Linked DNA regions of Homo sapiens: regions 2, 3, 4 and 5 are each reported to be linked to region 1. Evidence: microRNA targets listed by miRTarBase, many of them from high-throughput screens and not tested one by one. Region 1 holds a microRNA gene; each other region holds the end of a gene's coding sequence.

Region 1 (4,152 bases):
TCCTTGCCCAGCTTCCATCTCTGTCTTAGCAAATATGTTTTCCCTCCCCCAACTCATGTGAGACTTACCCTCACTCCTGCTCTGGACTCCAGCCTCTTGATCCTTCATGCTTATCTCCCCTGTTTAGTCTGTCTACAGCTTCTCTCTGTATCAACAAAACTCCTATGGTTTCAAATAGGAATCTGATTTAAACTGACTTTTAAGCAAAAAATAATGATAGTTAGTATTCAGATGTAGATGGATCATCTACATCTGGTCCCAAACAATGCCAGCAGGGAAACATTTATCTATATCCCTTAGGATTACTTTCCCCACTGTGTTGACTTCATTCTTCATTCTCAGAAGGCTTTCTTGGGCACATAGCAACTCCCAATTTATGTCCCATTATCTCTGCAACTTCTACCAAAGAAAAGGGCTTCCTTTTTATAAAATCCCAGCAGCCTAGGACTCAATCTTTTTGGAAGATTATTGGGTCATATGCCCATCTCTAAGGGAATTGCTCACTGCACCAGGGGGATGGAATGTGCTGATTGACCGGGCCTGGGTCACCAGCCCCTCTTAGCCAGAGAGCTGGATCTAATCCAGACATTTTGAAAAAAGAGAAGGAATGTCCTATCTAAATCAGACATTTTGAAAGAAGAGAAGGAATATCTCCTTTAAGAAAAAAAAGCCACTGTCATGGCCGGGTGTGGTGGCTCACGCCTATAATCCCAGCACTTTGGGAGGCTGAGGCGGGTGGATCATGAGGTCAGGAGATCGAGACCATCTTGGCTAACACGGTGAAACCCCATCTCCACTAAAAAATACAAAAAATTAGCTGGGCGCGGTGGCGGGCACCTGTAGTCCCAGCTACTCGGGAGGCTGAGGCAGGAGAATGGCGTGAACCCAGGAGGCGGAGCTTGCAGTGAGCTGAGATAGCGCCACTGCAGTCCAGCCTGGGCAAAAGAGCGAGACTCCGTCTCAAAAAAAAAAAAAAAGAAAAAAAGAAAAATAAAGCCACTGTCACTAGAAGAAAAGACAATGCCTGCTGGCTGGGCAAAAACAGCAGCTGTCCTTTCTGACTCTATCCTGGCCTTCTCCTTTGTGCATAAACCTGCTATGTCTTTTTCATGTTAAAAATCCCCTACCTCAAACCTGGGAATCCTCCTTACTACTACTCTTACTACTGCTATGATTACTACCCTACCTTACTTTGCATACAAACACACTTTTGAAAGAGTTGCCAGTTCCTGCTATTTCCACTTGATGACAATTTATTGTTTCCTCAGTTTGGTGCAATCTGGCTTCTGCTCCCGCCATCCTATTGATATTTTTCTCATTGAGTCATCAATGACCTGAAAACTGCCTCTTCTCATAAGCTTGTCTCATCTTTCTTGACCTCACCATATTATTAGGTGCTCTAATCCTTTCTCCTTTAAAAAAATGTGAAAAAATAAAATATTCAAGCAGCATCAGAAGCTACAAAGTGAAATTAAGATTCCCCTCACCCATGGCTCCTAGCTAGGCTTCCTGGTTCTCCTTCCCAGAGACACCCATTGCAACCAGGTTCTTGTGTGACCTTCTAGAGAAGATGTGTTCAGGCCCAGAAATAGTCTACATCACACACAAGGATGTTAGCATGCTGTGTACAATTTCTGTATCTTGCATTATTCCCCTCTGTCTTGGAGATTGTTTCTTATCTGCTTATCTAACTCTACATCACCCTTTGAATAACTTCCTAGTTTCCTATATAAGTGAGTTTATCTGTAGGAAAAGTTCAGAGTGCCTTCTTTCTTTTTAAGCCCCTCTTCTCCTTCATTTTTATGACATTGTGTGTCTGTCTTAGTCTGTTTTGTGCTGCTATAAGAATACCTGAAACTGGGGCCTGGTGCAGTGGCTCATGCCTGTAATTCCAGCACTTTGGGAGGTTAACATGGGCAGATCACTTGAGCTTGAGCCCAGGAGTTTGAGACCAGCTTGGGGAACATGGCAAAATCTGTCTTTACACACACAAAAATTACAAAAATCAACCAGGTGGGGTGGCACATGCCTGTAGTCCCAGCTACTTGGGTGACTAAGGCAGGATTGCTTGAGCCTGGGAGGTCAAGGCTGCAGTGTCGTGGTCACAGCTTGCTGCAGACTCGACCTCCCAGGCTTAAGCAATCCTCCTGCTCGAGTGACAGAGTGAGACCCTGTCTCAAAAAAAAAAAAGTGGATAACTTACAATGAAAAGAAATTTATTTGGCTCATGGTTCTGGAGGGTGGGAAGTACAAGATCAGGGGCTGTATCTGGGGAGGACCTTCTTGCTGCATAGTAACCTGATAGAAGGCATCACATGGCAAGAGAACACATGAGGGAGGGTAACTTACTTTTTAAATAAATTCACTCCCACAATAATAACATCAATCCAGTCACCTCCAAAAGTTCCCACCTCTCAACACTGTTGCATTGGGGATTAAGTGTCCAGCACAAGAACTTTGGGAGAACACATTCAAACCATATCACCACATTTGCTGATGTTCTTCCTACCTTCACAGCCACTCCCAATAGAAATTCCAACTCCACAAAGACTTCCAGTGACAGTTGAATTTGGAGGGTTGAGACCAGCTCATGACCCAGAAAGGAAAACAGAAAGCTTACTTTTTGTTTTGTTACAAGTGCAGTCTCTTAAAAATAACCACAAAATGCCCCCCCAAATGGCATATGGAAAACAGCACAGAGATGGTGTGTTAATCTACCTGAAATGTCTTTCTAAGGAAGTGAGGCTTGGATGGGAACGGAAATGCATCCCTTTTTCTTCCCAGGGTACACGTCTTTTTCTCACTTCCTCTAACTGGGAGCCCCAGGGCCTGGCTTTGTCTTGTAGCTTCCTGCCGTGATGCACCAGGCTAAGTGGGAAGGTTTCTGTTCTATGTCTAAAGTAGCACTGGCAGGTCCTCATTCTGCTTGTAATTGGGATGGGAATATGGGTAGGAATTTAGGGTTTGGCAGAGCGTACAGGACCTCTTTCAAGCCAGAGCACAGCCCTGTCAGACTTACTCACTGGACATGAATGGGTCAGTCAGCCCTCAGCAGTAACCACCAGCTACCATGTTAAGTATTTGATGTGAATTTTATCAAGTCATTCTCGCCACACCCTACAAGAAACTTGAGCTTAGGGGACTTAGCTAACTTGCTTGAAGGTTGTATAGCTGGGAATTGTTGGAGCCAGGATTGGTACCCAGGTTAGCTTAACTTTTAAGTCCGTGCCACACAATCAGATACATAGTATGAGGCAATGGGATGTAATGGAAAGCCCATGGGCTTTGGAATTGAACAGATGGGCTCTGGATCTTGGCTCTCCTACTTGACCCTATATGACCCTGAACAAACTGTTAACTCTTAAAATTATCTGTTAAGTAGAGATAATCCTTTTCCTGCCTATCTCACAGCCTTGTGGGAATCAAAGCTATAAAAAGATAGGCAAATAGAAGGGATAATTACTATTTGAGGGTGAGTTTACTTGAAGCCAACAATGTGGGTTTAGGATGAATGGTGAAGAATAGATAAGAAAAAAAATGATATTCTGTTGACATGGGAAGATGTTTAGAGTGTATTTCATCTAGTTTCTTTTAAAAAGCAAGCAAAAGAACAGAGTCATGATTCCACCTTTGTCTAAAAACTAAAAAACATCCATTCATCTATTCATCCAGCCATCTAGGATACAAACCAAGATGTTAACATAATACAGAGATTTGGGGTGGCGGGATTAAGAAGGATTCTTTTGTGTGTTTTAAAATTTTTTATGGCCAGGCACAGAGGCTCATGCCTGTAATCCTAGCACTTTGGGAGGCCAAGGCGTGCAGATCACGAGGTCAGGAGTTCGAGACCAGCCTAGCCAACATAGTGAAACCCCGTCTCTACTAAAAATACAAAAATTAGCTGGGCATGGTGATGGGTGCCTGTAGTCCCAGCTACTTGGGAGGCTGAGGCAGGAGAATCGCTTGAACCCGGGAGGTGGAGGTTGCAGTGAGCCGAGATCGTGCCACTGCACACCAGCCTGGGCGACAAAGTGAGACTTCATCTCAAAAAAAAAATTATTATTATAATTCCTTTTTTTTTTTTTTTTTTTTTTAGAGACAGGGTCTTACTCTGTTACCCAGGCTGAAGTGAAGTGGAACAGTCATAGCTCA
Region 2 (4,000 bases), not on the chromosome of region 1:
TGATGTCTCTCCTTCCCTCCAAAAAAAAAAAAAAAAAAAAAAGACAAAATAAAAACACGAAGAGCTGCATCTTGATCATCATGGACAGATACTTTTCAGTTAAAAAGTTGCTGGTAGTCTGAGTTCACTTACTTGGAGTATGGACTAAGGAGGGGAAAGCAAAGAGATGCGACATCAGCAGCAGAAAGCCTGCGACACGGCAGCTCTGCTCAGTTTTCTCCGTGGGGAAAGATCGGAACACTTACAAATGAGAACGGGACTTTAAGTAGATAGTATGCAATGGAAAACTGAGCCGGCAACAGTACTTAATGCTGGTTTTCTCAATAAAATCATTTTGCTGTGTAAACGCGCTTATAATGGGGATCTGTTATGAGTCTCAGGCAGGCGACATGAAAGCCGGCCTTTCAAAATCTGATTAGGTGGATAATGTTTGCAAACATGACGCCTGGCAAAACCGGTCTGATTCTAAGGTAAACTCATTTTGGACATAACTGATGTCTCACTGAGACAGCTTTTCAAAGCATGTCTGCAAACACCGGACCCCCGGGGACGGTGCGTGCGTGTAGGGGAGGGAAATTCCAGGGTTTCATATATCAAGATGACACACCCGCTGCACACTTCTCTTAGAAAGTCACGACGCACAGTACTGTGCGTCACAGGTATTGAGAAACACCACCATAGAGTCAATTGACTTTGTTTAACCTATAACCTTTTTTCCTCCCACATAGTAGGTAGTAACATCACACGGAAACAGTGCTCTGAAGACATTCTGGACACATCGTATACAGCACAGCCATTCAAATCAACGGCAACAGAACGCACGAAGAACCTGGTTTTCTTTCAAAGCATGAGCAGTTCTCATTTTACAACATGTGTTTTAACATAATTCAGAAAGTGCAATCTTTGCATGACAACCAGATAATTCTCAAAGGTTACTAGTGAGCTGATAAAATTAACGTTTGGCAAGGAGGTCATGGTTTACAGGTAGGCTGTCCGCTCACCAATGCTCAGAAAAATTCAGCAGAACATACTTTTCATATTTAGATCCGAAGAGAGGTGAGAGACATTCTACTCAAGTCATGGCTGGGCTTTCTGTCCTCAAACGAAATTGGGCAGGCCATTTGCGTGGTTTCTCTGGATAAGTTCCATTTATTAATCATTGTACAAAAAAATCTTGGCATTCATTTGAAGAGAAAAGAAGTTGCTATATCCAAATATTTAACATTTTAACATTGTGAAAGTTCAACGTTTATAACAGGGCTTTTTAAAATGGAGAAAAGTTTTGGAAAATTTTTAAAAAGAAACTTATGATTTATTAGAGTACAGGATCCAAAACACGTTTTTAGAAAAATATAAAGTGCCCAAATACCAACTTACACAGGTGATACAGGCTTCCTGGAGCCCCATGAAGCATTCATGAAGAAAGACATTTAAAAACAGTCTAGATACATATGTACAGCTGGGTCAGTAAAGGTAAAACCATCTTTCTTGACTTTGATGTGTCTAAGAAAAAAGGAAATCAATCAAACCAGAAAACCAACAATTGCAACTCTCAGCATGCTCAGGTTCTTATTAATGCATCTCATTCATATTAATTAATTCCGTATTATCAAACTTTCCCCTTTAAATGAAAGTAGTGTACAATCCTCCCAACCTTGGCGGGCCAGGTGCTGTGAGTGGTTACGTTTCCAGATGCAGGTTCAAATCCTTTGACTTTGGATTTGACTGATGAGGAACATGGACAGTGGATTAAATAGCTCATTCAGGCTGGAGGAGCCAGGGGCCAAATCCCCATCTCTTTCTAGTAACTGCTTAAAGCCTTCCCTTGCTATGAAGTGGTCTCAGGTGGCTTTCCAAACCTTGGTCACCCCAGGGTTTCCAAAGGGTAAACAAGCAGCAGGCATTCAACATGGGTGAGAATACTGCATGCAGATGGACAGACAGGTGCAGAGACAGGCCCCTAACGCCCCATTCACTAGAGCAACTGCATTATTTTAAATGTTGAGAGCAAAGTAACTAGGTCCTAACTTCGGAAGTTAGCTTCTATCGATTAATGACAAGATTAGCTCGCTTGAGAACTGGCAGGCCGAGAGTTGGTGGAGCTCCAGAGCTGCACAAAGGCGTGCAGTTACTCTGGGCTCAGTTACTGAGAACTTCGGAAAGGAGCCAGTGCCGTCCGAACACACGGTCAGGCTTTCCCAGAAGACGCCACAACAGGCTTCGTCCTGCTGCCGTCAGGACCCTGGCGGCTTGGAAAAGCAGATTCCAACACGCACATCTCCTTTCACACAAGTCCAACACTCTTCAAATGAAAGACATTCTCTCTCTTTCTAACCTGCCACATTCAAACAGGCCTTGAAGTGACTCTAAGGAATAACAAGAGGTGTGAAACCACTTTTTTTCCCTTCAAAACCTTTTTTTTTTTTTTTAAGGTTCATTAATTTTTTTTTTTCCTGATTACAAAAGCAAAACCTCATTTTTTGGTCTTTGAAGACCATGGAGTATGACTTCTAAGAGCAAACATTAACATCAGATTTGTATGTCTCACTACAAAAAGAACCCATCACTGATGTAAGACCTACTCATGATACTGAAGTAGATTTTTTAAATTAAAAAATAAAAGTAGTCATTTAAAATGGAGGAATTGTAGATGAGTATGGAAAAATCCATTCACAAAGTTCACTATTTGCATTTTCTAAAAGAATTTTATGTAATAAAATAGAAAACTAATGATTTATAGAGATGTGCATAAACTCAAGAGAGGAATATGGAAGGGAAAACTGTGTTATATTCCCATTTAAATTTAAAAAAAAAAGATAAAACACTTGAAATCTGTGTTTCACATATTAGAAAAAAATAAATTCAAATGATTCTAATTACCATTAGCTTGTTAATGTCTCCATCTCTAAGATGCTGCCAAGATAGCACACAACTTTACCTCTGAATATGCAACTAACTTCAGGGTAAAAAGACACACAGTCCTCACTCGGGACCGAACACGTTCCACAGAGAAATCAGAAGGAAATTATTGCAAATGCATAACCCCATCTGTCCAGCCAAGGAAATGTTCTGAGACAAATGCAGACAGACAGGGGAATGGAGTGAATACAAAGAATGATTACAGGAGCGTCGACTGTGAGACCTCATGAAGACAGAATGTCACAAACTGTCACCACAGGACAAGCATACAAGCCATGCCACTGACACAGTGCCTTTCAGATTAATTCACTAGTGTAGGCGGAGAGCAACATTGTCTTTGCAGCTGGGGAAGAGCACACGGTATTTAAACTTAGTAGGAGGCAACCAGCACTACTGGTGGAGTGGCTTTCCTGGTGCAGCAGGTCCCGAGGGCTCCGTGGAGACGTCTTCTTCCGGAGTCCCGTTCTCTTGGAAGATAGCAGCAGCAGCAAAGGTGCAATGTCCTCTCTAGACTTTACTCATCTATGTTCTCTTTCTTTGCACTGTAAATATTCTGCACCGTTTCATAGACAAACTCCAGATCTTCTGGATACCGGATCTCCAGCTCTGCGTTTGGGATGTAGTGAGTGCCAGTAAACTCTGAGAAATAGCGTCCCACGTCAGGGTGTGAGATTTCTTGAGGCTCCACGTTATATTCCAAGTTTTCTGTTGGTAAAGAGGCACACGGGCATTCTCATTACAATGTCCATTGCTGCCACACCTTTCATCCAGAGAACCTCCCATCACCCCTTCCAGGTGGCATTTTTGGGGTGGAGAAGGGAAGACTGAAGATGTTTATGGAGTCAGGAGAGGGTAATGGGAAAAGGGCAGCAAGTGGCAATCAGGAGAAGGTGGGTGGTGGCACGGGTGTCTCAAGAGCTCCCCACGGAACAGCAGGATCTTCCTCATCTCTAAGCAGGATGTCTGGCTCCAGCAAAACTCCAAAGGTCTCTTGGGGACTGGCAAACTAGAGACTCAACAGGTCTCTCTGACTGGACAATGGGACAACATTATCCCTGCCTGCTCTTTTTTTGGCAGTGGC
Region 3 (4,000 bases), not on the chromosome of region 1:
CTTGCCCCTTTTTCCCTCTGATGACCTCATGATGTTGGGTGGTGTGTGTTTGTGGGTGCATTTATGGCAGGGGCTGGTTGCTTCTTTTCTTGTTCTCTTTCTTGGCTCTCTGGGATGCTGAGTGGCCCCCGGCTCTTGTATTCCCCACTGATTAGTCATGGCCAGGCAGCTGCTCCAGCCAGGGTGGAGTGCTGTGCCTTTACCCACAGCACTGCCTGTTTGTTTTGCTTTATAGAAACTCCAAGAGGAGGAGGAGGAGAGCAACACCAGCAAAGTGCCCACTGCTGTGTCAGAGGATCATCTCTGAGAGGAAGGTGGTGACAACTCAGGGAACACGAACACCCCACCTTTTCCTTCAGCACAGCTCTCACCGCCAGCACAAAGGGCTTCGCTAGAGATGTTTTTGGAGGGAATCAGTGGGACTATTTGTGGCATGGATGGCCTATTCCTCCTAGAACCCACGTAAGAGCTTGGATGATTTAGTTGGAGAAAATTGCACCTATCACCAAATGCAAATTTGATTCCCACCTCCACCCCCTTTTAGGTTATGGGAGTTGGTGTTGGGACAGGGTGGCAGAGAATATTGGAGTCAATCCTAGCTTGGTCTCTTGCCTTCCCTCTTTTCCTCCATCCATCGTGGACAATGCCTGCAAAATTTTCACAGGAAGAAAGCCTATTCAGGATATTAACTTGAAATTTCCAGTGTCCTAAGAGCCTCTCATGAAGCCCAGTTCTAATAAGTGGCAAGCTGCTCTGCCGGGGTCATCTCCTGGGTCATCGGACTGATTGCTCAAGTTCTGCAGGAGAGGAAGCACCATTAGAACAACTCCATCAGAACAGCTCCACCGGGACTTGTGGGCCTAAATTTTCCTGGCCTAACGGGTCTGTCTCCAAACCCTCTTTCCTAAGAGCTGAGCAAACCAACCATAATAAACTTGACAAAAGACTTTGTTGTGGCCATGACAGAGATACCGACTCAGGAGGGCTACCTACCTAGGTGTGATCATGCTGGGGGCTACCTTCTGAGTATATTTGTGAAAGCACATATTTGGGAACTCTGGTAGCTTGAGTTGGGAATGGGAAGGTTCTTTTTTACAGAAGTACTTCCCCAGGGACTTCTGTGTGTCACAGTCACCTCTGATGCCTTTATCTTGATGTTGCATTGGGAATCTCAGCCATCAGCCCAAGTGCTTGTTTTATTCCAAGGCAGGGTAATCCCCGTCAACTTACTCTAACCTTTGCTGAAAACTAATCTTGATTCATTCTACTCTGAAAATCCAAAGGTGCTTCTGAGAGATAAGAGGGAAGGGGTAGAAGGAAAGGTGCCCCTTGAAATGGGAATTGAGCCTGTTAGAATTAAAAGCTTATCTCACCTCTGCTGGGGACAGTATTTGCACCACCAACCCCTCTCCTCACCTGCTTTGAGCGATAATCTTTATCAGATATTCTAAACTTAAAGGGATTCCCTTTAAACCAACTCAAGCTGATCTTTCCTATCTAGCCTGCTGTTTGGCTGTACTCATGGGCTTTGGTAATATCTCCTAAAAATGAGGTTTTGGTAATTTTTCCTATGCATTGGGCAACTGTGATCGTGACCACTGTGCTGTCTTGCTCCAGCCACTGCCCTGGCCTCAGCATATCAGGGCAGCCTGTGCTGGCTGCAATACTGTGGTGCTTGGGCCACTGCCTGAGAGGAGCCAGGTTTGTGTGTGTCTGCATGTGTGTGTGTGTGTGTTTGTACAGATTCAAGCAATGGATGCAAGGAACATGCTGTATGTAATAGAAGAAAGAAGTCCACGTTTTCGGCAGAAGTAGTGAGTCAGTGTGGAAGAGAGGTGAGGGTGTGCTTTACTTTTTGATAAAGAGAAAGATGTTTACTCATAAACCCTTCAAAAGGTATTAACAAAATGTTTACCAAACCTATTGCTTTATTTTAAAAACATAATTTGTGTTTTCTATTTGTAAGATCTGACATTTCGAGGCAATAAAAACTTCTCAGAAAGTGGTCTGCCTTATCATTCAGTGGGGCAGAGATGGCTCTTAGAAGTCCCTGCAAGACTGTCACACATTCCTGAGGCTCCTGTCTTAGGTGTGGGGAAGGGCTGGGCTGGGGCGGGGGAGTGTGAGGCTAGAGAAGCAGCAACTGTGGTCTTCCACAGGAGCATCTCACTGTTGCCAGACCTTACCATCTGGGAGGGATATTTTTTAAAGACAAGGCTGTAAAGGTTACTGTTTGCCTACATGGAGGGACTGCAACTCAACATCCAGCACGACCCTGACCTCTTTCCATGCTGTGTACGCGCTGGAATGTGAGTGACTGCTGATGAGAGAGTCCACTGTTGTTTCTGGCTCTGCCTCAAAGGGTGGTTGAAATGTTTGTTCTCTGATTACCTCAGCCATGCATCAGCTTGCTGTGGCTGGGGCCCATGGCTCAGTCCCAGCAGCTGCAGTCTTGCGTTACCATTTTTCTTCCTAACTGGCCAACGTCCTGTTACTCATCCCTCCCCAGTTGTGATCACCTTGTGCGTGTTACTTGAATATGCTGCTACTATCATCTGTGTTCTGTACATTCTTTCCATAGAGAGTTGTACTGTGCCTGTGGTATTCTAGCATCATATTTATAGCAACTCGTAGCTGGGGAGGAACAATATTATGATTCTATTTTAAATGATCTAGGAAGGGACCCAAGCCTGGGCTGTTAAGAAATCTAATATCCATAGTGTCTGCTAAATACTCTAACTGTACATCTCTTTAGATCCTTTGGGTCCCTGCCTTTACTAATCTGGAATCACTTTTTTTTTTTTTTTTTTTTTTGAGATGGTGTCTTTTTCTGTCGCCAGGCTGGAGTGCAATGGCGCAATCTCGGCTCACTGCAACCTCCGCCTTCCTGGTTCAAGCAATTCTCCTGTCTCAGCCTCCCAAGTAGCTGGGACTACAGGCACACGCCACCATGCCCAGCTAATTTTTGTACTTTTAGTAGAGACGGGGTTTCACCATGTTGGCCAGGATGGTCTCGATCTTTTGACCTCATGATCTGCCCGTGTCAGCCTCCCAAAAGTGCTGGGATTACAGGCGTGAGCCACCACACCCGGCCAGGGCATCACATTTTCATGACACATGCTCAGAGGACCTAAATCATCCAATGTTTTCATTCACTCCTTTCATAAGGTCTTCATGTGGATCTGTGTTCAAACATTAACTGTCATCACTGCTTTTTTACTGCCTCCTAACAATATAGCTGACAAGTAAAGAAAAGATAGTTCTTACCATTGAGATATTTTTCTAGATACAGTGTTCTGGGCATATGAGGCCTGGAATTTCTGCAACCAACTTTGGTACCATAAAAGAAGTCAGCCTGAGGATGCCAGCACACATAGGTAGTGCTGAAAGAATCGTAAAGAAATGGAGCTGGAGTCTTGATCAAACCCTTCCTGAAGCTAATCTTGTAATTTTTCAGTTATATGAGCCAGCTATCTTTATTGTTTAAGCTAGTTTAAGGTAGGTTTTGTCCTTTCACCTAAAGAGACTTAACTGATAAGAGAATTCCCAATGTATTTAAGTGTAAACATCAAGCTTCTTATCACACCCTTATAAGCCCCTTGCCTCCTTTTCTGACCTTTTCTTTCACTTCCTAACTCTTCACCATGCTGTGATTACATAGTTCTTATTCCTTGAATAAGACTATTCTACCTTCCAGTTGCTGCTCCCTCCTTTCTAACGGCCTGCTCCATATCTTAAGACATTTAACTCCTGGGCATTCAAGTCTCAGCTCAAATCCCACCTCTTAGCCTGGACAACATAGTAAGACCCCATCTCTTCCCACCCCCAAAAATGTTAGCTGGATGTGGTGGTACACACTTGTAGTCCCAGCTACTTGGGAAGCTGATGCAGGAGGATCACTTGAGCCCAGGAAGTTGAGGCTGCAGTGAGGTGTGATTGTGCCACTGCACTCCAGCCTGGGTGACAGAGTGAAACCCTGTCTCTAAAAAACAAAAAAATC
Region 4 (4,000 bases), not on the chromosome of region 1:
GCTAATCAGTGGCAAAGAGTGTAAACAGATGAAATGGCAAAGTTTTAAAAGTTTTTTTGTAGTGTTTGGGAAAATAAAGAATCTGTGGTAGGAAGCAAGCAGGTTTAAGTACAAGAAAACAAAACAAAACAAAACAAAACAAAAAACAAAAAAACCCGAAAGCCCAGCCTCAAGCCTCAACCTACTTTAAGATGCACAAATACAACTCAAACTTCATAAAGCAGAGGAGTAAAAGGTGCAAGAGCCATGTAGCATCCCTGAAGCCATGGCGAAACAAACACAGCGGTATTTAAAAACTGGGTTCACTCAAAGGCACAATTCAATCAACCTCTTTTTCTCTATTTAAGTGTATATATTTATATCCCTTTGTATATCAGAGATAAGTTTTGTTAATTGTAGAGGACACAATGGCTTTCTTCTTGCTTCTAAAAATTACTGAAGATGAATCATAATAAAACAGTAAGCTCCTGATGCTAGTAACATTAATGTGTAAGATACCAAATAAGGCAAGTTTTCAGCCAGAAAGGGGTAGGGGGTTTTAGCTTTCTAAACATCCTGAGACCTGAAATTAAAGGATACAGGACAAGGGAGATAAGTGCGGTCCAATCTGTGTAAGGGAAATAGCTACATATTTTGGTCAAAACAGATAATATGAAGGTCTTTTTGTTACAAAATATTAGATACTTTTCCCATTCAGTATTGTAATCAAATCATAATATCAGACAGTCAAATTCTCCTCCTATTGTGATTCTATTTCTGATAAATGCTTGCTGGGCCCTCCCACTCCTCACCACTGCTACTAGGTGGCCAATGTTTTCACAATCCGAACCCAGTATAATTTGATAAATTTTAGTAAAGTGTTTTTTCATTATTTAGCAGGGCTCTTAAATTCAATAATTCACAGAAAGGACAGAAACATTAAACACTTTAAAAAATAAAACAGTGTTCTTCCATTTCCTACTAAAGACACACACACACACACACACACACACACACACCTTGTAGTGCCAAAGGCAAGATTTACACTCTATTTTCACTCCTTAAGATGCTTTGCATTTGTCTTACTCTGAAGTGTGTACTATTATTGTTATAAGAACTTTCCATACTCTAAGGCTTAATTTTATAATCTAGCCCTTTCAAATGATCTACCTCAGTACAGATTTTGCCTTTGGGAATTGTAAGCATGCAGTGAAAAAGTGCAAATCATTTTAAAAATCCTTCAGACCTCTATATACAACCGTAACAGCAAAAAGACCCTATGAACGTTAAGGATTCATCAGCCACTACCTTTCACATACTCTATTAAAAAGGTTACCATTAGTTACTCTCCTTTAGGTACAATGCAATAAGGATCAGAAATATCCAATGACCAAAGTAGTACAAATTGATCTATGCACATTTGTTACTTTTTCAAGGGACAAATAAAATCTTTATATCAAGTTCAGAGAAAAAAAAAAAAACCCACAAAGAGTAAGGCCACTGAAAAAGCAATCTGTTTTAGAGCTGGCTGAGAAATCTACCTGGAAATGTCTTCAGTCAAGGGAGCACTGTGGCTTGCCAACAGAACACGCACATGCTCTGGCACAATCTGCATAGAACCTGCCATAAAGAACACAACCCTTCACAATTGACAGGTGGCTTGTTCTAGGGAATGATAGGACAAAAGGGGAGGGGATGGCTAAGGGAGTAAGGAAAAAAGAAAGATGTTAAATAACATCTTCAATATCGAAATAAAGCCTGATTCTGGTGCCTTGTCCTTTACATATAACAGATGGACACACAATGCTACACACACACCAAACCTACCAGGCAATTACTGTTCATTTAACACAGGTTTTTAAAACTAGTAGTTTAAAAAGGACCAGGGCTTTGCTTTATAACATGAATAAATGAAACCGGTCATCAGGAATCACACATCAAGGTCTTATGCTCAGATATGACTACAGCTGTCATTCTCTGGCTTTCACCTAAACATGAGGGACCAGACCTCTGACTTAGTGACAACCAAAGAACAGTCTGGAGAAGAAACTGAAGGAACAGCCTCACACAGACCACTCACACTGTGAGAGATAAGCATCGCTCCCATCCCTCGACACATCCCTTTGTGTATTTACAAACTACCAAGAGAGTTCCTGCATTCATCATAGGGATCTTAGATGTCTTCATTATAAATAAATATGGTTCTCCCTCCTCCACTAATAGGAAAATGTGAAACATGCTTGGTAGGAAACATGTACAGGGGCAGAATGGGACAAAGGCGGAGAAAAAGTTATAGAGATGACACTCCTCAATTGTAGTAAGTGTGCAAATTCTACTTCTAAAAGGGATAAAAAAGAATTGGCTTTTAAAAACACTGCACTCAAAGTAATGTTTCCAATAATAACCTTTAAAGTTTCAATGAAAAAGAAAAATCTGTGCTTATGGGCACATGGGATTTCTGATTGTGTTACTTCATTTTAGGTCATTCAAAATGGACTTGGTTTAATGCATACACTATGGCAATAACTTACGGAGGGCCACAGTTCCTCCTCAACCAAATCAAATCTAGCTGAGAACACTCTGGAGTGAAGGCATGTGGTGATGAGTTTTTCAAAAGTCTAATCAACCACCCCAAATCTCTACATCCTCTCAGGGAGTTAACTTCCCCTAGACAATCAAGGACTCTGAAAGTCTAGTTTTGCTATAAATATAAAATATTTGTAGCAGAAAAATATAGCCTCTCTAAGAAGCAGATTTCATGTTTCTTGTTCACTGACGAAACTCTGAGTTGGCTGGACAACATGAGTTACCACATAACTGTAGACCACAGATCAGCACCTCAAATTCCAGCTCTACTTAAACAAAACTTTAAAAGCACTTTAGCCATCTGGTCAGGTATAAATGTTGGTTCCCTTCTTCCCCAAGGGAGGAAATTCAGAATAGAGTCAACAGTGACTGCCCTGTTAGAGAGTCCCTTTCGCTGAAGCAGGGGTGGGAAATGGCAGGGGTAGGAAATGGCAGCGCCAAGTCCTCCTGTGCAGACCTCGAGGTGGCACCCCATGTGCTGTGGCTCCTCCTCACCGCTCCGACGTGGGCTGACTTTCAGCACAGTAATGAGAAGTCAGAGCTGGGGTCAATGTGCAGCGCTCTAGGCAATGGGGAGATTGGGGGCGGCAGGAGCGGGGGTTGCCTTCAATTTTATAAATTACAACAATACTTGGTATTATCAAGCCACTGTTCATTGGCAGAAAGTGGGGCACAGTGGAGTCCTTCATTACTTATGGTTTACAGATGGCCATTAGAAGTTACTAAACAAATATTTCTCCCAAAACTCAAAAGAAAAAAAATCATCCACAAAACCCTTTACCAAAAGTCATTGTTAAAAAAAAAAATTTCCTTCTGGGAATGGACTAGCGTGGCTACTGAGATGACGTGAAATTCACTTTCAGAGTTGAAACTGTTTCTCCTCATTTCATTTGCAACTTGTATCCTGCTGGTTTAAAAAAAAAATAGAAATGTTTCTAGACCATTCATACACCCATTTAAGCTAAATTGCACTTCTGTCCTTTAGTTAGGAAGGGCAAGATCATCTCTGGGGCCAGCCTCCTCATCTCTGCTTCTGCATAACCACAGTGTCCAACCAATGATCACACTGTTGTTGAGAGTTTAAGTGGACAAATGTCCTGGCCATCTCGTGGTGCTTCTTTTTTAGAGTTTGGTGTCCTGATGAAACAAATGTCTGGACTGTTTTTGAGGCTTCCAATGTGCAAAAATAGTTCCCAAGGCATTGAATCAACCTGGGGCTCCATTAAGGTGTTTTGGTTAATTCTTGTAGCTGCTGAAAACCCTGTCGTGTATAGTGCACCAGGTCCACCAAACTGCTGTTGAGGGCCAAGGTGCACACATTTGTGCTGAGCCGAGCAAAGAATTCTGCAAAAAAAACAAAACAAAACAAAAACAAGTAAATACACAAGCACACACAAAAATTAAAATGGAAACAAAAATTCAAGGTTCCAGAAGG
Region 5 (4,000 bases), not on the chromosome of region 1:
CAACGTGCCATGTTTTTTGTTTTTTGTGTTTTTTTTTTCATTTTTGTTTTTCTATCAGCTGAAATCGCTCTAGCATTTGCTCTACGCGCGCAGGAGATGAAACACAAGGGGGCCTGACAGACGTTGCTACAGCCCCACGCAGGGAGTGTTTGTCCCGCCTACAGGCGGGGGGCTTAGGGGATTTCTTTAGGAAAAAAAGAAAAAAAGTCTGGTGCTTTTTTCTTCACCATTGAAAAACTGTGCTTGTTCATTAGGCGTAAAGAGTTAAGAATACTTGCACGGAGGCTGGGAACATTTGCAGAAGAGGAGCTTGAGTCCTGCCACAGGTGGTGGCCAAGGGCAACTGGGTGCCGAAGGGGGTCCTGGCCAGGTGGAGGGGCAGCCCCTGCTCACCCTCTGCTTGCACCCAACCAAGCTTGTGGTGTTGGGTTGATTGATTGGCGTCCTCGGTGGACCCGCGGCGGCACAGCTGCTGCAGCTGCTAGGACGCCCAACTTAAACCCTGGGGCTGCTCTCACCCCAGAAGGCACTCATGCGTCTCAGTCAAGAAAGGGTCTGAGTCCCTTGAGTTGAGCAGGAGGAGGACTTACCAGTGGTCTCCCCTCCTGGAGGTGGTGGATGTGAGATGCTGAGGCCTGACCCTGCCTCTTCTCCACTCTTCCCAGACTCCCTGACCAGTGCCGGGAGCAGAAGCACAGACCCTGGCCCTCTCTTGTCCCCCAAACAGCTGCCCGGCTAAAGAAGTGGGAGCTGCAGGGTTCTGAGCACCCCATCACCTCCTGTCCCCATCTGTGGGGGAAGGAGGAGGGGCTTCAGGGTCTACCCCCAAAGTAAGCAGCTTCCCTCTCCCCTCTGGTGGTCCCCTCCCCAGTCCCTAATATTAGCCTGGGGCAGAGAATTGGGAGGGGGGAGGGGACGAGGGCCCACTGTCTCACCCAGCACGTGTGCCCCCAGCCCAGTCTGAAACAGAGTGTGTGCCCACAGAAAGTCCTTTTCAATAGCTGGGTGGGCGCACAGCTCTGCCGCCTTGAAGATGTGTTGATGTTAGGGAGTGTGAGTGTCAGAAGGAAATTAGCAAGCATCCAATCCAACCTCCTTAGGTTGTAACTGAGGAAACTAAGGCCCAGAGAGACAAAGGGAAGTTTCTAGTGTTGCCCACTTTGTCAGTGAAGAGCCCAGACTGGAACCTGGGACACCAGCTCTAGTTCTATCCTGGCCTCCCCACTGACTCCCTCCCACTTGCCAGCCTTTCAGGCCAGTCTCAGCAGAAAGAATGAAAGACTGAGACTAAGAGAGGAGTGAGCTTCCTAGACCACCCTAGCTACCTCCAGGCCAAAGCCATCTTCCGATGAATTCTTGGTTTTCACCCAGCCATTGGAGAGAATGGGGCAGAAGTCTCAACTTCCTGTGGCTATCAGTAACTAGCTTTCCCCCAAAATCCTGACTCAGATGTACTTTCCCCACTGGTGAGATCTCCAGCCTTTAGCCCTGGAGACATTTTCATACACTGGAGCTACTGAGTTGGACGCTGTGATACTCATTGCTGCTAACCCTGAATCAGGTTATTCACCATTTTTGCAGCATTGGATGTGTCTTGTCTCCTCAGCTAGATTGTGAGCTCCTCAAAGCTATTGTCTCTCCCAGCGCCTGCACCGGTAGGCACTCAATAAAGATTTTATAGAACACCAGGATATTAGTGCTGGGAGAAATCTCCTGCCAGGAGCCACTTCCCCCACTTTCTGCCTGCAGGTGGCCAGAGCAGCTATTCCCGCATGAACCAGTCGTGCTAGAAGCTCTTCCTCAAGCCAAAATCTGCCCGCCTGTTACTTTTACCCATTGGTCCTGGTTTTACCCTTGTAGCAGCAATACAGACTCAAATTTCCTTCACTGTATGGAATTTCTTCAAATATGTGACAAGTATCCTGTCCCCCTTACCCCGGTCTTATTGATACGAGGGCATTGAGACTGGGTTATGAATGGAGGTGAGGGGGAGGCTTACAGAGCAGTGCAAATGAGGGAACAGTGGGGGGTGGGGCACAAAGGAAGGTGGCAGAATTCCAGCTAATCTGGTGTCTTCCACATAGGGAGAAAGAAAGTTGGGTTTGGGTTGGAATTTGGTGGATTTTCCCATCTCCATTCTTCTGTCCTCTTATCTCTCTGCTCCCTTTGGGGTTCAGGAAAATTGTGAGGTGGTGCAGAAAGACATACTGTATCAGGTCTGTGTCTCCCAGCACCCCCATCCCGACACCCCACAAGGTTCTCAGAAGAGAGCATAGAACACGCTGGACAGAGAATATGAATCCTCACAACATCTAGGTGAGGTAGCAGGACCGGAAATGGGGCTGCACTGTTCTCTCTCCCCCCTCAAAGGAGAAGGAAACTGAGGCACAGAGAAAGAAAGGGACTTGCCCAAGGTTATCAAAGAGTCAGAGAAGCAGCCAGAGACCAGGAACACGGGCACTCCCAAACCAAGCTGAGGGGCCTCCCAAACCTAGCTGATGTGACCTCAGAGCCAGGGCCATCTCTGAGGGACTGTGTCAGGACTGGAGACATCCCGGGGGATGCTCAGCTTCCTCCCCAAGGTCTGCGGTATTGACCTCAGCCCTTAGTGCTGGCTGAGAGCACTGTGGCCAAGACCAAGCAGCCATCACCTATGCTGTCTTATCTGCATCATCTGGTTAATTTTTTGCATAGGGAGGCAGTGGCTACGTTGCCTCTTTGTGACAGGCAAGAGCACAGCCTAAAGGAAGGAGTTGGAGTGACCATGGGTCTCTCGGCTCCCAGGAACACATTGGGTACCAGTAGCTGAGGGCCGAGCCCTCCCTGGTTTAGTGTGGAACTGGGGGGATATAGCTGGGGCCATGAAGTTGAGCCCTGGGCCTGGGGAGCCCCGCCTAGATGAACTCTCCCTTCACCTGCTGGAGCTCTGCTGCCTTCCTCACCTCCGCTGAACCCTCAGAGGCCAGGATAAGACCCCATCAGCTCCTTTTCCAGCTCTCCCTCTCCTAGACCCCCTTCCACACTCCGTGCACTGTAAACATGAGAAAAACAAAAGCCAAGGTAAAAACAAAAACAAAAATAAAACGAGAACCCCCCCCTCCCGCCTCCCAAATTGGGTGAAAAACAAAATCCTTTTTCACCGTAAACAGAATTTGGCTTTTTTTTTCTTCCACCTTTGATTCCTTTTTCCTTTTCTCTCATAAAGACGGGAAGATTGGGGCTGTCGTTGGTTCGGTCAGGCACCAAAACAAGAAACTCAATGAGAAATATTTGGTGCGAATTCGGTAATAGCGACATGTCCACCACAAGATGACTAGAGCACCACACACAACATTTTTCTTAAGCTAACATGCTCCGGCTGCCATCCACAGAAATAGCTAGAGACCCCTACATGGTTCCTACGTGGTCGAGAGGTATATATACAATCCTTCAGAGGACAGGATTGAGGGGCCCGTCTGTCAGCTAGTGCCTTCAGGATCCCACCTGGGTTCTCCGCAGCCTGGGCCCCTCCTTCCCGCCCTTGCGCTGGGCACCGCCAGCTCCCTCTCTCCTGCTCAGCCAGGCGGATGGGGACAGTCGCCATTCTGGAGAGGTGGGTCCTCCCCAACCCCCTCCTCTCCCTCGACACCGATACCACCAACTCCTCTTTCCACAAAATGTGCTTGCAGGCTTTTCCTCTACGTCAAATGGCTCAGAAGGCAAAGTTTGGCTGCAAGGGCTATGGCCGTGGGGGGACCTGGTGAAGGAAATGGGGTGTCCACTGGCTAATTCCTCCCTCAGCTGTCGGCTCCCAGTTGTGTCTCAATGTCCACTCGGCAGATGGGGCATTTCTTGCTCATGGCGAGCCACTGGTCCACGCACAGTTGGTGAAAGAGATGCATACAGGGTAGGCGTCTGGAAGAGAGGAGGGAGAGTCAGAGGCCCGGCAAGAGCTGAGGGACACTGAGCGGAGCAGGGACACACACCTAGGACTCCTGGGGAACTGCCCGGCTATGGAGGG

What was found. Region 1 holds the annotated microRNA hsa-miR-1273h-3p (CUGCAGACUCGACCUCCCAGGC, at 2,113-2,134, shown strand). A microRNA usually pairs through its seed, bases 2 to 8, with sites in the 3' UTR of a target mRNA and lowers its output. Matches are read on the target gene's strand: a 7mer-m8 pairs with bases 2 to 8, a 7mer-A1 pairs with bases 2 to 7 and ends in A, and an 8mer does both.
Region 2: the mRNA of FBXO21 is a reported target of hsa-miR-1273h-3p. Seed matches in the 3' UTR shown: 7mer-m8 at 3,080-3,086.
Region 3: the mRNA of FLVCR2 is a reported target of hsa-miR-1273h-3p. Seed matches in the 3' UTR shown: 7mer-m8 at 1,712-1,718.
Region 4: the mRNA of AFF1 is a reported target of hsa-miR-1273h-3p. Seed matches in the 3' UTR shown: 7mer-m8 at 3,016-3,022.
Region 5: miRTarBase lists ARK2C as a target of hsa-miR-1273h-3p. Seed matches in the 3' UTR shown: 7mer-A1 at 296-302.

Annotation. Positions count from the first base shown.
Region 1 is chr16:24,201,074-24,205,225 of GRCh38, forward strand. MIR1273H (microRNA 1273h) reads left to right here and starts at 2,043; the gene lies at 2,043-2,158. The region is part of intron 16 of PRKCB (protein kinase C beta); the gene reads left to right.
Region 2 is chr12:117,142,654-117,146,653 of GRCh38, forward strand. It overlaps FBXO21 (F-box protein 21), which reads right to left. Exons shown (of 12, transcript NM_015002.3): 12 at 1-3,624. The coding sequence ends at 3,434. Among named protein-coding and RNA genes, the nearest start is that of TESC-AS1, 45 kb to the left of the region's middle. RefSeq lists enhancers at 139-1,338, 739-818.
Region 3 is chr14:75,646,166-75,650,165 of GRCh38, forward strand. It overlaps FLVCR2 (FLVCR choline and putative heme transporter 2), which reads left to right. Exons shown (of 10, transcript NM_017791.3): 10 at 236-2,002. The coding sequence ends at 307. It overlaps ERG28 (ergosterol biosynthesis 28 homolog), which reads right to left. Exons shown (of 5, transcript NM_007176.4): 5 at 3,626-4,000. Among named protein-coding and RNA genes, the nearest start is that of ERG28, 13 kb to the right of the region's middle. RefSeq lists an enhancer at 2,181-2,475.
Region 4 is chr4:87,135,489-87,139,488 of GRCh38, reverse strand. It overlaps AFF1 (ALF transcription elongation factor 1), which reads right to left. Exons shown (of 21, transcript NM_001166693.3): 21 at 1-3,909. The coding sequence ends at 3,788. Among named protein-coding and RNA genes, the nearest start is that of KLHL8, 83 kb to the left of the region's middle.
Region 5 is chr18:46,456,413-46,460,412 of GRCh38, reverse strand. ARK2C (arkadia (RNF111) C-terminal like ring finger ubiquitin ligase 2C) reads right to left here. Exons shown (of 8, transcript NM_152470.3): 8 at 1-3,894. The coding sequence ends at 3,777. Among named protein-coding and RNA genes, the nearest start is that of ARK2C, 120 kb to the right of the region's middle. RefSeq lists an enhancer at 1,490-2,279.